Linked DNA regions of Homo sapiens: region 1 is linked to region 2. Evidence: fine-mapped expression QTL. A gene starts in region 2. The other region holds a variant in brackets. All regions are shown on one strand. Distances are from middle to middle.

Region 1 (8,317 bases), 56 kb after region 2:
GCCAAAACGGGCTTCTTCCCTCGGCCTGCCAATGTGCACACTCAAGTCCTGAGGGGTGTCCCGGGGGTGGGTGCAGCGGGGAGGGAGTGGGCAGAGCTTGGCCTTGTCAGCCGGGGTGTCTGTCCCCACATATGTGAACAAGGTCCTTTTAAGGGTGGCACAGAGCTCAGGGTAGGGTAATAGGGGAGGGGCTGGGCCAGGGCCTGGGGCTGGGGTCTGAGGGTCAGTTCTTCCCGACAATTCCATAGCTGAGCCTGGCCTTCCAGGCTGCTGCTTGGCAAGGGAGGAGCCCAGAACGTGTTTTATTTAACAATTTGTTGGCTTGATTGATAACCTTTAAATATCTAGATACATGGTGTGTGGGCCTCCATTGGTACCATTACCCCATACCTCACAAGTGTTAGGTGTGGGCCGGGGCAGGGGCTGGGGCGTTACACAGGAATTCCCTATGCTCTGAGGTAACATCTCTCAGCAGTGGGCGGCAAAGAGTGACTAAGGGCACAGCTGCCAGCAGGCACCAGGCTACGGAGTCTCGCCAGCTGGCAGGAGAGACTTGTTCAGCAATCAAGCCTCCAGTGTACAGATGACAAAACTAGAACCTAGAGGGAGGCAGGGACTTGTTCAATGATGTGCAAAACCCCGTGGGCATGCACGGGTGTGTGCAAGTGCAGGGCACCCATGCGCGACAGTGGGGGCAGTGCGTGCGTGGATGCGAGTGCTCACAAGGGCATGGATTGCCGGGTTGGTGGGCTTTTGTTCTTCTCCACATTTGTTCTGCATCAGAGAAGATCCATCATTTCCTTCTCCTGTAATGATGTTGACCTGATTAAAATCTTTATTGGGTTTCACAAAATAATTTCATACACAACGTTCCCTGGGGACCCTGCTGGAGGAGGTAATGGCAGGGGATTGAGTGGCTGGGGGGCTAATAGGAGAAGAGCTAGTGACAAGTAGATTTAGAAAGAGGTTGAGGTGGAAAATAATTCGTGTGCTGCTGAAATGGTCAGTAGGGGACGGGCCAGGCAGCAGGGAGGTTAAAAGCCATGCCTTTTAAGTCATACTCTTAGGAAGCTGCAAGTAGAAACATTGACATGGGCCAGCCATGAGAAGATGTCGGATGGCCCTGGCAGAGGGCCTGGCAGAGGACAGAGAACAGTGCGGGTCCACGGCTTTAGGAGCAAAGGGTGGATACTCATATATCTCTCCCAGTCCAAGCCTCTGGTCCATCGCTGACCCACTCCTGGGTCAGGAATGTCAGGGTCTGGGGGTGCACTGGGGTCTCAGGGCCAAAGCCAACAGTCTCCAGATGGCGAGAGCTGAGGGCAGGCCTTGGAGGCAGCCCCTTTCTGCTGTTAGCAGCCATGTCGTGGGTACGTTCCAGGATGTGTGGTACAACTAGCCTGGCTCAGTCCCCCACTGGCCGGGTGACCTTGGGAAAGTCATTTCACCTCTTGAGCCTGAGTGTTCTCACCATAGGAAGCATGAGAGGATTCAAAGAAATAGTAGACGCAAAGTTCCTGGCACAGGTGGGTGCCCAAACATGACAGCTGCTATTGTTATTATTACTACTGTAATTTAGTCATTCCGTTATTTATTCTATAAGCTCTCATTCATTCTACCTACTATCCTATGCACTGGGGATAGAGCAATGAAAAGTCTCTGACCTCATGGGGCTTACATTCTAGAGGGGAAACAAACACCAAATGAAATAAGTGGCAGGGTCTCACTCTGTTGCCCAGGCTGGAGTGCAGTGGTGCAATCATAGGTCACTGCAGCCTGGACCTCCTGGCCTCAAGAGATCTTCCCACCTCGGCTTCCCAAAGTGCTGGGATTACAGGCATGAGCCATCATCCCCACCCATGAATTGTATTTCAGATGGTGATAGGCACTATGGAAAACAATTAAGCAGGGACTTGGGGGTGCTAGGGAGGAGCTGTAATTTAAAGAAGTGGTCAAGGAAGGCCCCACTGAGAAGATGGTCCTTGAGTATGGATGCAAAGAGGGTGAAGCCGTGAGTCCCGGGGGGCCTGAGCTAAGAGGATCTGAGGCCACAGGAACAGCAAGTGCAAAGGCCCTGAGGCGGGCGTGTGCCTGGCATGCAGAAGGAGCATTGACGAGGCCAGCATGGGGGAAGCAGTGTGAGCTGGGGGTGGGGGGAGCATGAACCCTGAGGTTAGAGAGGAGAGGGGGCCGAACCAATATGACCATGTAGGCTGCTGTGAGGACTTGCGCTTTTCTCCAAGTGTGACAGAGCCTCGCAGGGTTAGCCTTCTCCCCGCCAGACGCTGGACTGCGTGGGGGCTTGTTGTGCCTTTCCCAGCCCCAGTGAGCCTGGTACCTGCTCCCCACCTGAGACAGGATGGACGTGCCAGTTTTTGCCTCTTCTCAGGAAAATCCCCAGAGGCAGCCACAGCCTGATGCAGGGAAGGATTGGGGTGGGGGTGAGGCTGAGCAGGCCCCAGGCCCCAGGACTGCATGGCAGCCCTGCCTCGGCATCTGCCCCTCCCTGTCCCAGGTTCCAGCCACCTCTCCTGGCTCTTGTTTCCAGGCCCTCCCTATCTGGGACACCCCAGCTTGTCAGTTCCAACCGTAGTTTTTAAATTCAATATAATTTTCTTTTTAGAGACCCGGTCTCACTGTGCTGCCCAGGCTGGTCTTGAATGCCTGAACTCAAGAGATCCTCCCGTCTCGGCCTCCCAAAGTGCTGGGATTACAGGCGTGAGCCACCGTGCCCAGCCTCCCACAGTGGTTTTTGTTTGTACAGTGTCACCAAGAGCAGGAGTGAAATCAGTACACTCCCTGGGGAAATGAGCATGCTCGAGGCCAGACAGAGCGCCAGCTGGACCTAGCCAGGTGCCAGGCTGGAAGCCCCATCCATGTGAGTGCCCTGTTGCCACAGACACAGCTGAAAGCACCCAAGATCAAGAAGAAAACTGAAACCCGCTATGGGAGCTGTGACCAGCTGGGGCAGAAGGCTCAAGACGAGAGGCCCCTGTGAGGGACAGGGCTCACTCCTCCTTAACTCAGCCCACTCCCTCGAGTGCCCGCTCTATGCCAGCCAGCCCCAGAGACAGTCAAGATAAGTGCATTCCAGGATCACCGTGCCCAGCCGAGGGGGAAGGGGCTGAAGTCTAGCCCATGCTCCACTTGCCAAGCCTTGCACCACAATGTGAGGCTGTGGCCACCCGGAGAAGGGTGTCTCTAATTCTCACAAAGGCAGTGTGCGGGCTGGCAGACCTGGTCCCTGCCAGGAGGAGCTCCTTAGTGGTGGTGGATGGACCAGGACTAGGGCTGGGGCCTGGACGGTGAGAGACAGATCAGTGAAGGTAAAATCACTGCTCAGTGTTGGAGGGACTGACGGGGGTCAGGCCAGGAATGCCGGAAGAGCTGGCCCAATCTGAGCATCCCCAAGAAGGTGCTGGGAGTAGCCAGGTTCATGTTGGGAGGTGTGTGGGGAGTGGGGGGTGGTACCAGGGAACAGCCCTGGCAAGGGCCCAGAGGTCTGGGCAGCATGGCTGGATGGGGATTTTGGAGGGGAGGGGGAGCAGGCACTGGGGAAATGGGCAGGGCACAAGTACCCAGCTGGGGGGCTTGCAGGCGACACAGGAAAGCCTAGAGGATTCTAAACGGGATCTCAGAGGGCAGCAGGTTTGCATTTTAGAGCAGGCTCTGGGTCCAGTGTGCAGGTTGAATTGGAGGAGCCAAGAGGACCACTAAGGCCCCCAGGAGAGAGATGGAGTGCTGGAGTGGGGCAAGAGTTAAGGGGTGTGGTGTGAAGACCACTGGGACACAGATGTTTCCTGAGTTGGGAGGGAGGAGCCAGGTTCTAGCGGGATGGATAAAGTGGGGGTGCTGCAGGCCCAGGACTGAGATGTGGGGCAGAGCCCTGGGAGCAGAACAGATCTGAGGGCCAGGGAAACAAGGGTGAGTTGGGGCACACCTGCCTGAGCGGTGTGTGCAGTCTGCCATTCCCACCCGTCAGAGGTTTGGGAGCCAGGTCTAAACCTGGGCCTTCTCACCCCTCAGCTCTTGCTTCCTCGTTCCACTGGCCCCTGCAGCCTTCTCACCCTCCTCCCTCTATCTCTGCCTGTCCCCCACTTACCCATCCAGGTCCTCAGATAGAAAGCCCTGGAGTAAGGGGTCAGTGGAAAGGTTTTTGCTGAGTGGAGTTATTTTTACTAAGTGCCCAGATATTTTCAAAGTAGGCAAAGCTGGCAAGGTTGCATGCTTCTAGGGTCTCACTAAATCGAGGATGGGGGCATGGACCAGCCTGGCTGGCCCAAATATTTGCCGTGTTGCTGGGTAACCACCAGTCGGCCTGCAAGCTGGCATCTGTGGAAACGAGGACTTGGAAGGAAATTCACACAGCCACCAGGGGCCTGGAATCAGTTGGCAAAGCCAGGAAGCACCCCAAATGTCTCCTGAGAGTGGGCAGGCTGATCTTCCGGAAGCTGGCCCCCAGGAGAGAACAGGCATGAGATGGGATTAGCAGCTTCCTAC[G/A]GACACCCAGTGGCTGCAGGAGCCGGCTTCCACAAATGAGCATCACGTGGCTCCAGCTGCATGGCCTAGAGGGGGAGGCCGGCTCACTGCTCCATGCCCAGGCCCTGGTTTCTCTCTCCCTCTCTTGTTCTGGGCAGCTGCTGTGGTCACCCACAAGGGAATATTGGCTGTCTCTATGAGGATCTGCCCATACCATGTCCAGGGAGAACTTGGGGCAGGGAGAGGCACATAGAGAGAGGAGGCAGCCCACCACACAGTGAGGTTGGAGGGGCTCTGAGAGGATACCTACACACACACACATGCACCCATTCTGATCAACTGGCCTGCTGGAAATTCCATGATTAGGCATGGAATTCCTTAAGAGTTGGGAAGGACATCGGAGCGGGCCAGGACACCTTACATGCAGGGCAGCGATCCCAACCACACTAGCCCAGGCCCAGACAGCACCAGCCTCTGCGTGCACATCCTGAGAGCTGGGGAGAGCACCACCCTCAGAAGCATTTTGTCATCTTGGAGACAGCAATAACTGCTAGCATGTTTCTGAGCCTGAGCTTGACTCTTCCCCTGTGGGAAGGCAGGGGCTATGGGAACACCAGTCACATATGAGGCTGTGATGACCCAAGTGGGCTTTCCTGCTGCCCTAAGAGCCCACAAAGGAGGGCTCAATGGCCAAGCTCTGGGAGAATAGTGTGACAATGTACAAAAAGTAAGACCTCTACCTGTACTTCTCTAATCACAGAGAGCAGGTGGGCAGGCAGAGAGCAGAACCTGTGAACTCCAGACCAAGCACCCCCAGGCTGGGAGAACCAGTGGAGCTTTGCTTCTCTGAGCCTCTATTTTCTCCTCTGTAAAATGGGTACAACATGAATACTGCAGGGGCCATGGCGAGCAGGCAATGGTTAATGGTCATAGAGCCACCAGCAAGGGCTGTGTGACTGGGAGATGAGGAGGTGTCCCCTTTCCCTCTCTGGGTGGCTCCTGCTCTGACCCAAGCATGCCTTATTTCCTCTGGCATCAGAAAGCCCTCTCCTCACTCTATTCCATCCTCCCTCCTTCCTTTCTCCCCTTCCAGCTGAAATCCTCCACACGTGGTTGCCATGAGCCTGCTCCGTGCAGCCTGGACAGCTGCCTTCCGCTCACCTCCACCAAAGGCCTCCAGCAAAGGTCTCAGTCTCAACCCCTACAGGCCTGTCCTCCTCCCCCTCCTCCTCCTTCTCCTCCCCTTTGTCCCCCCTCTTCCCCCTCCTCCTCCTCCTCCAGCATGAGGCACAGCTGACCATGTTCCTTCACACATTCTGTCTGCCCAAGTCTTTGCGGGCTGTGCGCTCCAGCCTCCCCCTGCTCCTCCCTGGCAGTGAGGACAAGGGCTCTGGCTTAAAGGACCTTTGCTGAAGCCCTGTCTTCTAAAATCTTATTCAGTTCTCCCATACCTCTGGCAGCATGGCACACAGGTGATATTCTGCCCATTGAACAGACGGTGGGACTGAGGCACAGGGAGAGGAGGGGACAGGCTGCAACGTAAAGAACCCAGGGTCTGCAGTCTTGGGTTCACACCCCCCTGCCATTTGCTAGTTGTGCCACCTTAAGCAGGTTGCTCAAGCTCTCTGGGTCTCAGCCTGCTCATTTGTAAAGCAGGGAGGAAGATAATCATATCTTTCTCATCGAGTTGTTAATTAATGAGTGAAAGCACTTAGCCCAGCACCTGCCTTATCGTGAGTGCCTGGTAAGTGTTGGCCCTTCCCTGGGGCAGAATCTCAATGAGGAGGAGTCCAGCTCTGCGGGCCCCACATGAACCCGGGCAGCACAGGGTGTGGGCAGGGCGGGGAACTCGGGGCCTGAGCTGCAGCCTCAATCCTGGACTGGGCAGCCAGGGACCTGAGTGAGCAGGGAAAGTGCTGAGCTTGTTGGAGGTGGGAGGCAGGAACGCAGACTCACCAGTTCTGGCCTCCAATAGGATGGGATGGGATGGAGGGCCGGGCAGTTGATGAGGGATTCTGCTAAAGTGGGGTTTCTTGTGTCTGCAATGACTCCCTTCCTCTCAGTCTCCCTGTTTAAAAAAAGGGCCTGGCTCGCTCAGCGTTTGTTGGAAGGAAACTCAGGGTGCCCTGCCTACCTTCCTTCAGAGCTCAACTCCAGCACCTCCCCTTCCTTATACCAGTGGCCACCGCCCTCCCTTCTGCTCATTGTCTTCATTTTTTAGAGGTGGGTGGCTCGGGGCTCTGCATCACTGGGAGTCGTAGCACTGTGCCCCACCAAGTGCCCAGGAACTGTGGGGCTGGGTTCAAATCCCACCCAAGCCCTGCCTTTGTTCACAGAAGGAAGAAAGTTCCCATCGCCAGGCACCCACCATGTGTCCCCATCCATAAACTCATCAGTCCTCACAAACCTCTCCCTTCCGAATCTCCAGATCCCCGTGCTTGGAGTTGGTACCCACAGATTCATCTGAGAAAGGCCCTGCATGGCCAGCTGGGGTTGCCAGCTCAGTTCTCCACTTCCTTGTCTTCTGGGAGGAGTCCCTAGTATTCCCCAAGGAACCTCCCCCTTCCCTCAATCCTTGTAGTGGGACTGACTCCTCCCATGCCCCTGAGGGTCGGCATGTGACGTGGGGCTTGACCACTGAAAGGGCCACATGCTTCTGATCACAACACTTGGTTCAGCTTTGGGCACACGGCCCAAGCTAAATCAATACCACTAAATTCTGGATTTTAGCTGGAGCTGGTGGGAAGATGTTCTGATTCTCCTGGACTTGGAGCCAGTAGGACATAACACTAGCATTTCCAGGGGCCATGGCAGGGAGGGAGCCAGTTTAAGCCACCACTGAGGAAAGCAGGGTAGAAAAGACAGAGAGAGACAATGTCCTCATGCTAGTGTTTGAGCCTCTAGATCCAGCTGTGCCTGAAGCCCATATACCCCTGGATTTCTCAGTTACATTAGAGAGTAAATCCTCTCTCTTTTTTTCTTTTGCTTAAACCACTTGGAGTTCATGCTACTTGTACCCAAGAAAACCTTAACTAACCTAAGAATAAAAATGTTGAAAGGGCAGGGACAGAGCGCTGTGGCACTGCTATAGGGACATCCACCTGGACTGACAGTAACTGTGAGTTGGTTCCCTTGGGGGCAGCTGCTTGACCAGGCAGTCACAATCTCTGCCCTGTCCTGCACCTTGATCCTCAGGGCACTATCCCAGCCTCACCAGCATCAAGTGCAAAGCCTCATGGGAGCGCAGACACCTGCCTCCTCATGCCCTGTCAGAAAAGAGGCTTTGGTCACTCTGGCCTCACCTACTCCTGATGAACCATGTAGAGCTTTCTCAGGGTCCTCAAATCTCCTTCATGATGGCCCCTTGGAGGGTTGCATGGAGACCAGTGTCACAGTTCACAGGCAACTCCACTCGGCAGCTGCAGAAGGGCTCTCTCTGGGGACCCAAGAAAGTCTGGGAGGCCCATCCACCAGCCCCAGAGAGGTAGGCAGACAACAGGATGACAGGCCAGACTCAGAGCAAAGGAAGGTAGGAGGGGCTGTGGGCAGGAGAAGAAAGGGCCACTTCAAAGCTCATAAAATCACAGCCAGTTGTACGACCCGAGATGAGCACTGGCTGGTTCCTAAATTATGCAGATTTGTGCAAATATTATGCAAATTAGTCATGCAAAGGTGGCAGGGGGCACTTGCTGACAGCCTGGCTCTGCAGCCTTCTCGTCAGTCAGCCTTGCCTTGTTCAGGGAGTGGAGGAGCTGTCACCTGCCAGGCAGCAAGAAGGGAGGGACAGGTTCTGCCCTATCCCAGCCTTCTGCCCACCCTTCCACTCTGGGGGGGCCTC
Region 2 (8,273 bases):
TTTGGGCTTCCCCGGATTCCCAGTGAGATTCCCAGTAGGGGAGGCTGCTGACTACGTTGCTTCTAGACAAGTGACCTGTCACTGGTGCTGAAACATTTCCTTGGAGGCATGGGTGCCCCATGGTGAGAGGGAGTAAGAAGTATGGATTCAAGAGTGTCCCTGCCCCCATGCCCTGGCCCTCCTCTCTAGGGGAATCTACTGGGCCTTCCTGATTAAGAGACTTCAGTCAGGTGTAATTTGTAGACATCAGACCCTCTGGAATCAGGGCTGTGGGCTGGCTGTGGAAACTGGAGGAGACAAGATGAATCCAAGCCCTCAGGGTGTTCCTGATTCTCAGGCGACAGAGAATGTGGTCCAGGTGTCTCCGAGTGGGAATGCTGAAAGGGACCTTAGGCTAGAGCCCTGACTTTAAAGAGAAGGGGTCAGGAGGCAGCCAGTGACCATGACAGTCAGTATGATCACCTAAAAATACCTGCATTTATCAAGCTCCTACTACATCAGCATCAGGTAGATACCAGCCACACGTTAAGCCATGAGACCCTCACACCACCCCGTGAAACCGACATTATCTTACAGAGGAGGAAACTGAGACTCAGGAAGGTGTCCAGGGACATACAGCCCCGCCCGAGGGGAAGGTGAGGTTCTCAGCAGGTTTTTGGAAGGAGGGGGACACACAGGGACCTGAACTGGAAGGGGAGAGGATTTGAGGGGCTGAGAAAGCTATCGATGACAAGACAAGCATGAAGTAAATGCCAGGGAAGAGGATGCCCCAGTTAACGGGGGTGGGCCTCCCACACACCCTTGCCCTTGAGTCTTGGCCTCAGCCTGCACCCACCATGGATGTTCCCTGGGAACCTGCATATCTCCACACCAACTTGGGCCAGCCACTGTGGGGAGAGAACCCCTCCAGGTGAGCCCCTGTGCCTTCCCCATGTTGGCTGCCCCATGCAGGATGTGGAGGATCCAGACTTGGGCAGCACTGGATGAGGGACTTTCCTTTAAGATACTCAGGCCTGACCCTTTGTGACATGCTTACATGGGAAGCTGGTGTCCCCAAGTCTGCTCTGACTCTTGAGGAGGGGGTCAGGAGGGGGCAGGAAGGCTCTATACCGAGCCACATCTCCAGGACCACCTCCAAGAAGGGACTGTCCCGCTAGCCCCCTCAGGTGCCTCCATCCCTGTCTGGCCTCCACAGTGCACCAGCGCAGGGCCTGACCTATGGATTTTCTGCCACTTCTCAATCCACTTCACTCTAGCCTAGTACTTCATTACACAGCGGCCTCAGCAACCCCATCATGGAGGGCTGTGGGTCTCTGTGGTGGCTTCTGGAGGCTACATGGCCCCCACCTTCTGGACTTCAGCCTTTTAGGGGATCAGGGTCGTCCAAGGAGCCCTGAGCTTAGAGACCCCCCCAGGGCAACCTCTCATTGCATAGCTGGGGAAACTTTGGCCCAGGGAGTGGCTGTGACCCCCTCAAGGTCACACAGCAAGTTAACAAGTTAACTTGTGGCATAAAGTAGAACACGGGGTCCACCTGAGCACCCAGCTCCACAGGGCCCCCCAGCTGGATGCTGGCTCCACCTCACTCCCCCAGCCCTGCTCCATGCCCAATGCCAGCTGCCCAACCCCCACTCACCTCCAAGGCTCCTGGTCTCCGTTTTTCTTGCTAATTAGAGGTCTCAGCAATGACTCTGCTGTCCCAGCCATTTTAGAGCCGTCATTAATTTCAAGTGCCTTCAGAAATAATCATCATCGTAAAACCCTGCGAGCTGCTGGGATGCCAGTGGATAGGACCAGCATAGAGCAGGCATGTAGGCAGGCCTGTGTGTGCCACCCTCTCCTTTCTGTGCCTGGGGGACCCTTGGTCCTTGCCCCAGCTCCACCTCCTGCCTCCTCAGCCTCTCAGAGTGAAAGGAGAGCAGGACTAACATTAGATACACACAGAGCTTCAAAGCCCAGCTCTAACTCGTGCACAGAGTGAACTTGAGCAAGTCACCAGCCCTCCCAGAGCCTCGGTCTTCTCATCTGTACAGTAGGAACAGCAATGCCAATCTTGCAGAGAGACAAAGATGTGAAGTGTGGCTGAGTCTGGCTTATAGTAAGGGCTGAATACATGGTGGAGGGCCTTCTCCCCTCCTCCTGTGTTCCCGGGCAAACCCATTCCAGCTTCTCCACTTTGCAGTGAGCAGTCAGGCTGGCTCCTTCCAGCCACTGGCTCCTGCTTTATTGGGACTTGCTGAGTTCTCAGCCTGCAGCCAGGGTCTGCTGTGTGCCCACCTATGAGACACGCAGTCTCAGATCTGCTCTTGGGAGCACCTAGTCTGAGGATAGAGGGAAAAGATTTGGGCCTTGCCTCTAATGTCATTTCAGTCTGGGGAGAGGAGACAGGAATAGAAGAGATGGGTCTTGGTTGGGTTTTGAAGCACAGGTAGAAATCAGGGAAAAGGCACGCCACCAGGGTGGTCCAGCAGGCACAAAGGCCTGGGGTGCGGGGAACATTCTTCAGCTGTAGCTCCTGGACATGATCCCCTGGTTGTGCCAGAGCACACTTGGACTAGGCCATCCCGGTGTGTCACATTCTCCATGGCCCTGGGACCCCTGAGAGGACTCTGCTGGGAACCACCCCACCCGACAGGAGAGGAGAGATGCCTGTTCCACAGCTCATGCAGAGGTAACTGGGTGGGGACCCAGTGACAGACCCCCTTTTCCTGGAGTCTCTAGGTGACAATGCCAGGGACCCGTACTCTCACCAGGCCCAAACTAGACCCTCAAAAAGGCCTATCCTCCAAGTTGTTCCCCCAAAGCTCCCCGTCGTTTCCATTGGAATAAAACAGGGAGAGCTGGGAGGGGTCATGTCTTTTGGAGACAAAGGGAAAGGGGAATGGCTTGGATGCCATTGACAGTGGAGAACCGAGGCCAAGGGGCTCTTCCTCCCAGACACAGCTCCGTGGTCATCCCTGCTGCCTCCGAGGCGCGGAGGGATCATTGTGGGCACCAAAATACCCCACCCTAGGACCCCAGCTTCCTCCGGTAGCACCTGGGGGTTAGCGGGGTGGAATGAGTGGGCTCTCCCCCATTTCTCCGCCGAGATCACTGAGGCAGGGAGCAGGTGAGTCGGGGGCGGAGAGATGTGGTGGCCGCGCCTTGCCTGCGTCAGTCACCGCACCAGGAATAGCCCTCGCCCCCGCCCCCGCCCCCCAGCGGGTCTGCGCGCCCGCCGGGTGCCTGGCGGAGCCTTTACGCAGGAGCCAGCGAGCGTCTATTCCTGTCGGGCTGGTGGGAGGAGGCGGCGCGGGAGGGCGGGAGCGCACGGGTAGCTCACAAACAGCCGGGGTGGGGGGGCTGGGGAGTCTGGGGAGGGGTCCAGGCAGCGCGGAGTTGAGGGACCGGGGAGTCGCCTGCGCTGGGCTCTGGCAGGGAGGGGGACTCCTGTGCTGGCCTCCCTGCTTCACCTCCCACCTGTAAGTCCTTCTGCCGAGCCTGCCCCCTGCTGGTCCATTCAGCCATAGAAGACGAGTCCAGTTCCCTTTCCGTGGCTTGCTGGCTGTGTGACCATGGGCAGAGCCTGGAACCTCTCTGGGCCTGGGCTTCCCTCCCTCTGTCACAGGGGAACAATAGTGCCTCCCCCAGAGTTGCTGGAGGGTGAACGTACAGTTCACAGTAGAGCATAGCATGGACGCCTGCTAGGAGGGACTCTAGCTAGGCCTAGGTTGAGGATGGGCATAGACATAGGAGACAGGAGAAAGTGCTCCAGACAGGACTGTCCAGAGCAACGGTGTGCCAGAGAGACTGAGAAGTACCCAGAAATGGTGCAGCTGGAACAGAAGGTCTGTGCAAGCCTTTGGGCTGTGTGTGAGGCTGAACAGCGAGAAACAAGGTGCTGTTGGGGGTGGGGAGAGGTCCCTCCGTGGCAACCAGGCATCTCTGCAATGATGTTGCGCAGGCTTCCTGGGAGAGGGGGTGTCACTGGAACTGGGATTCCAGCGTCTGCCCCAGAATCCGAGAGGCTTTGGGCTAGATCCCCTCCCCCAGCCTCAGCTGCCCCTGTGGACTCAAGCTATTAGGAGTATTCATGTGCTAATGGGTTGTTCCCAGCAGGGGAGGAGGGATGGCCGTGCCGGGCGGTGTCAGCATTGATGGTTATTCTAATAAAACTGGCTTGGTGGTAAAGGGCGTCTGGCTTCAAGGAGATGGAGGGGGTAGTATAGGGAAAAAGGTGAGGTCCTGAGGGTGGTAACCTACTCTGCAGGCTTTGCCAAGACATCCCTGCTGGCCTAGTTTCTGTATCTGAGGATCAAGGAGGATCTGGATCTCCGAGGAGAGGTCCCATTCCTTGGGCCCGTCTGAAGTTGTGGCCCCAGCCGAGGATCCCCGGGACCATTCCGGGAGGAGGGAACAGTCAAGCCCAGGCGGAGGCTCTGCGCTGCCCTCTGCTGGCCACTGGGTGCAGGGCCTCCGGACGGAGCGGGCCAGAGAGGCCTGCCGCCCTCTGCTGGACAGGAAGCCAGGCTGGGCGGGGACCCCGGCTCCTGGGTAGAGCTGCCGGGCCAGCGCGGCTTCCTCGCCGTCCCCTGGAGCTTCCCATTCTGCCTGCCTCGCCCTCCCGCGCTAGAATGTGGGCCCTCTAGCCTCGCGGACTTTCGAGAGGAGGGGACAGGGCCAGGACGGGGGCTCCCGGTCGGCCTCCCCATGCCGCCCTCCAAACAACCCTGTTCGTGTAGGGAGCCCTGTCCGTCCTCGTGCGTGTGTTCGTCCACAGCCCAGTTAACACGTGTAAACACACTCGCGCGCTCACATGCACACGCATGTGGCAACACAAAAATCACACACAACGGTGTGCGCGCATACACCCAGGGAGGACCGCACGCCGGACTCCCCGACACCCGGCTGGCCCGGGACTCGCCCAGAGCCCCGGACCCGGAGGGGCGCGGCCGTGTGCAGAGCTGGAGCGCCTGGCTGGTGCGCCCCTCGCCTGCGCACCCCTGCCTGTTTCGCTGCCCTAAGCGTGCAGGGCAGCGGCTGGGGCGCCCCTCGCTCTCCGCCCCCTCCGCTGAAAGGAGACGAACCACCCCCCACCCCACCACCACCATCACCAGGTTTTGCGGCCGCGCCTTCTCCTCCCCCGCCCGGCTCCCGCGGCTCACTCGCTCCCTCCTCCCTCGATCCCTCCTCCCTCCCTGGCTCGCTCCTAGTGCTCCCTCCCCGCGCCGCTGCAGAGCGCGGAGCCCGAGCGGGAGCCGGCGCGGGAGCCGGAGCGGGCGGCGGGCGACAGCGCAGGCGGCGGCGGCGGCGGTGGGTCCTGGTCCCGGCCCCGGAGGGCGCGGAGTCCCCACCCGCGCCGCTCCGGCCCCTCTCCCGACGCGGGGCGCCGAGCAGCATGCGCGGCCGCTGCCCGCCGGCCCCGGCCCCGCGGCGGAGCGCGCCCGGCCTCGACCCCGGCCCCAGCGGCAGAGGCGGCGGCGGCGGCTCCGGGCCGGCCCAGGGGGCAGAAGCAGGCTCGCGCAGCCCCTGTCCCGCGGCCTGAGCGCGCCCGCCCATCCGCCCGCCGGGGCCGCGGCCTCCCGCCTCCCCACTCCCGAGCCCCGGCCCCGGCTCCGGCTCGGCTCCCGCCCGCGCGGGGCGGACAGACGGACAGCCAGCCCCGCGAGGGCGCGCGGACTGCCGGGCGGAGGTGTCGGAGGAGGAGGAAACGGAGGAGGGGGCTGGGCAGGGGCTGGGGCCTGGTCGGGCCGGCTGGAGAGACATGCGATTGGTGACCGAGCCGAGCGGACCGAAGGCGCGCCCGAGATGCAGGTGAGCCAGGCGGCCGCGGCCGAGCCCCGAGCGGGCAGCCCCGCGGCGAGTGCCCCTGGGGGCCGCCATCGGCCCTGGCTGCGCCCTCCTGGGGTTGCAGGGCACCTCGGTGCCACCCAGACCTCCTTTGGGGTCATAGGCCTGATTTCCCCTCAAGCCTCAGAAATGAAAATTCTTCCTTTTCCACCTCCCCTCTCTCCAACCCCAACAAATTCCGGGTTTGTAAGCTGGGAGCCTGGAGCTGGGGAGGGGCCCCCACGGGTGTCCCAGACCTGCTCTGGTCTCCCCTTCCTGTCCCCCCTCCCATTCTGAGTATTGGTCACTCTAGAGGGTAAGCCCCCTGCTCAGCCCTGGGTGGGTACCTCCCTTCGTGGACCCCAGGTACCCCCAGGCAGCCCCCACCAGCACCAGACACTCCCTAGCTGGTGGACACAGGTCAGGGGCTGGGTTTCTCCACAAGCTCCAGCCTGGATGGCAGCTCCCCACCACACACAAGCATCGCCCCTTTCCAGCTCCTGCCCAGTGAAAAGGAGATGGGGAGTAGGGAGAGTGGAAGGAAGGGAGTTGGGGACCGGGAGCGCCCAGGAACGCTTTAGGGGCCTCCCCTTTGTCTGCGTTCAGCCCGGGCTTCTCACCTCCTCTTGCCCCACTTTTCATTCTAAGGCAGAGCGGGTGGGAGGTGGGAACCAGCTGAGAAGAGGGAGGTAAGGAGGGAGCCTCCTGCTCCCCCTCACACCCTTTTCGGGGTGGGCTGTGGGCTCTCTGCTCTCAAGGCATGCCAGGAGATGTGACCCTCCGGGCGGATCCCACTTTGAGAAGGAGGGGTGGGGCCAGGCCAGTGGGCAGCCCCTCCCGGTTCCTGCTGGGGTCGCAGCCCAGCCTGGTCCAGCCTGACTGTGCCTGCACCTCCTCTTTGTTCTCAGAGGCCTTGGGGTTGGGGTGGGGCAGAAGGGGGCCTGAGAGGATGGGAAGAGCTCTGCCCTGAGCGGGTGGGAGTGCAGGAGGCCCTGAGGTAGGGGCTGTGGCATCTGGACAGCCCCTTCCTGCTCGCCCAGCCCTCCCTCAGTCCTCTGCTTGGTTTGGGCAGCCAGAGGGCGCATAGCCCAGCCTGGCCCGCGGCTCTGGGCTCAACCCTGTTGGTCATTATGCCAGTGGCTTCAGCACTGGTGCCTCCCATGCCCAGGGAGCAATGAGCCGGGACACCCAGGCGGCAGAGAGCCTGGGGCTTCCCCAGATCCAGCGCAGAGTGTCAGTGAGGAGAAGAGGGCCAGCTGCTCCCAGACCCTTTGTCCTTGTATAAGCCAGGGAGGAGCTCAAAATCCTCACGCCTCTGGGAAGGCACTAGCAGCAGGTCTACTGGGATGGCATGCCTGTCCTTCCTGCTTTCTACCCGTGGCCCGAGGTGGGAGGGAGGGTATAGGGTGGCACCGGGGAGAGACCAATAACTCCTTGGAACCGTGCTGAAAGAGGGCACAGACTCACATCGGGGATCCCAGCAGCACCCAGCTGCCCCTCCTGGAAGGGGCTTAGCGAAGGCAGGGACAGGCACCCTGTGGTGTTCTTGTCTCTGCCCCCCTCCTCACCCCCTGACAATTTAAGTGTGAGCCCCTGGGTAGGGCTTAGTTAAAGCTGCAGTGTTCCCCAGGTTCTGGAGTTAAAGAGTGGGAACCAGCTTTTAGGGGGATGGGCATGTGCTCAAAGCCAAGGGCCCTGTGTGACTGGGAGGGAGGTGGAGAGACTTACCCCTTGCGATAGTCCTCTTTCATCTGGGCTCATCTTCATCCTCTGTCCTCTGGGCATCCATTTCTCCTATATTGGGTATTGTTTTCTAAAACCCAGACTCCCAGAGGGACACCTCCCCCACCCCAACCCCCCAAAAAACAACCTCTTGTGGAGGTGGGTGGTTGTTCTGCATGAGGCTAGACGGGATCCCTGGTGCCGGTGAGGGCTCATGTGTGGTGCTGCTCTTCAGGCGCCTTCAGCCGCAGATATCTGGAGAAGCACAATTGGGGTTGGGGCGTGTTCCTGTTGGGAGATAAGGCAGTGCAGTCATTCGTGCAGGGTCCCACGGAGGCATGAGGCAGCGTGTCCAGTGGAGGGTAGGGGAAGTGGAGCCAGGGAAGGGTGGGGGGCGGTGGGTAGTAGGTGTGGTGGTTTCAGAGTCAGGGCCTTAGCTTGCTGGCTGGAGTCTCTTGGGCTAGCTGTCCTGTGTGTGGCACTCTGTGGAAGTGGCCTTCCAGCCCCACCCACCTCCATGGTTAGTCTCTGGAGGCTTTCTGTTCTGTTTCCACCAGTTCCTCCACGTATCCCCCCATCCTCACCTGGCTTGGCCCCGCATCCCCTCACAAAAGGTCCTTTCCTCTCCTTCTCCTGACCCCCTCCTCCAAGAAGCCTCTCTGCCTGCTTCAAGTCATTGCCCCTCCTTCTCCAGTCACCCACAGCATAGAACCACACTTGTTTGCACTGAATATTGTACCAGC

Alleles and levels. Positions count from the first base shown, and alleles are read on the strand shown. Sizes are in standard deviations (SD) of each study's normalised expression.
With allele G in place of A in region 1, the expression in skin of the gene that starts at base 5,191 in region 2 is higher (moderate effect, 0.47 SD a copy in TwinsUK).

What was found. PIP is the estimated chance that this variant, and not a neighbour inherited with it, causes the effect.
Region 1: its variant is the best candidate, but not a certain one, in a credible set for the expression of LINGO1 in skin (TwinsUK, PIP 0.73).

What each region holds. Positions count from the first base shown.
Region 1 is chr15:77,573,759-77,582,075 of GRCh38, reverse strand. The region is part of intron 3 of LOC105370906 (a long non-coding RNA gene); the gene reads right to left. Among named protein-coding and RNA genes, the nearest start is that of LINGO1, 55 kb to the left of the region's middle. RefSeq lists enhancers at 1-150, 7,803-8,303. The variant G/A (reference allele first, on the strand shown) is at 4,501.
Region 2 is chr15:77,629,830-77,638,102 of GRCh38, reverse strand. It overlaps LINGO1 (leucine rich repeat and Ig domain containing 1), which reads left to right and starts at 5,191. Exons shown (of 2, transcript NM_032808.7): 1 at 5,191-5,793. The coding sequence starts at 5,788. LOC105370906 (a long non-coding RNA gene) reads right to left here. Exons shown (of 4, transcript XR_001751806.2): 4 at 7,642-7,818. RefSeq lists enhancers at 4,238-4,367, 3,809-4,372, 7,767-8,273.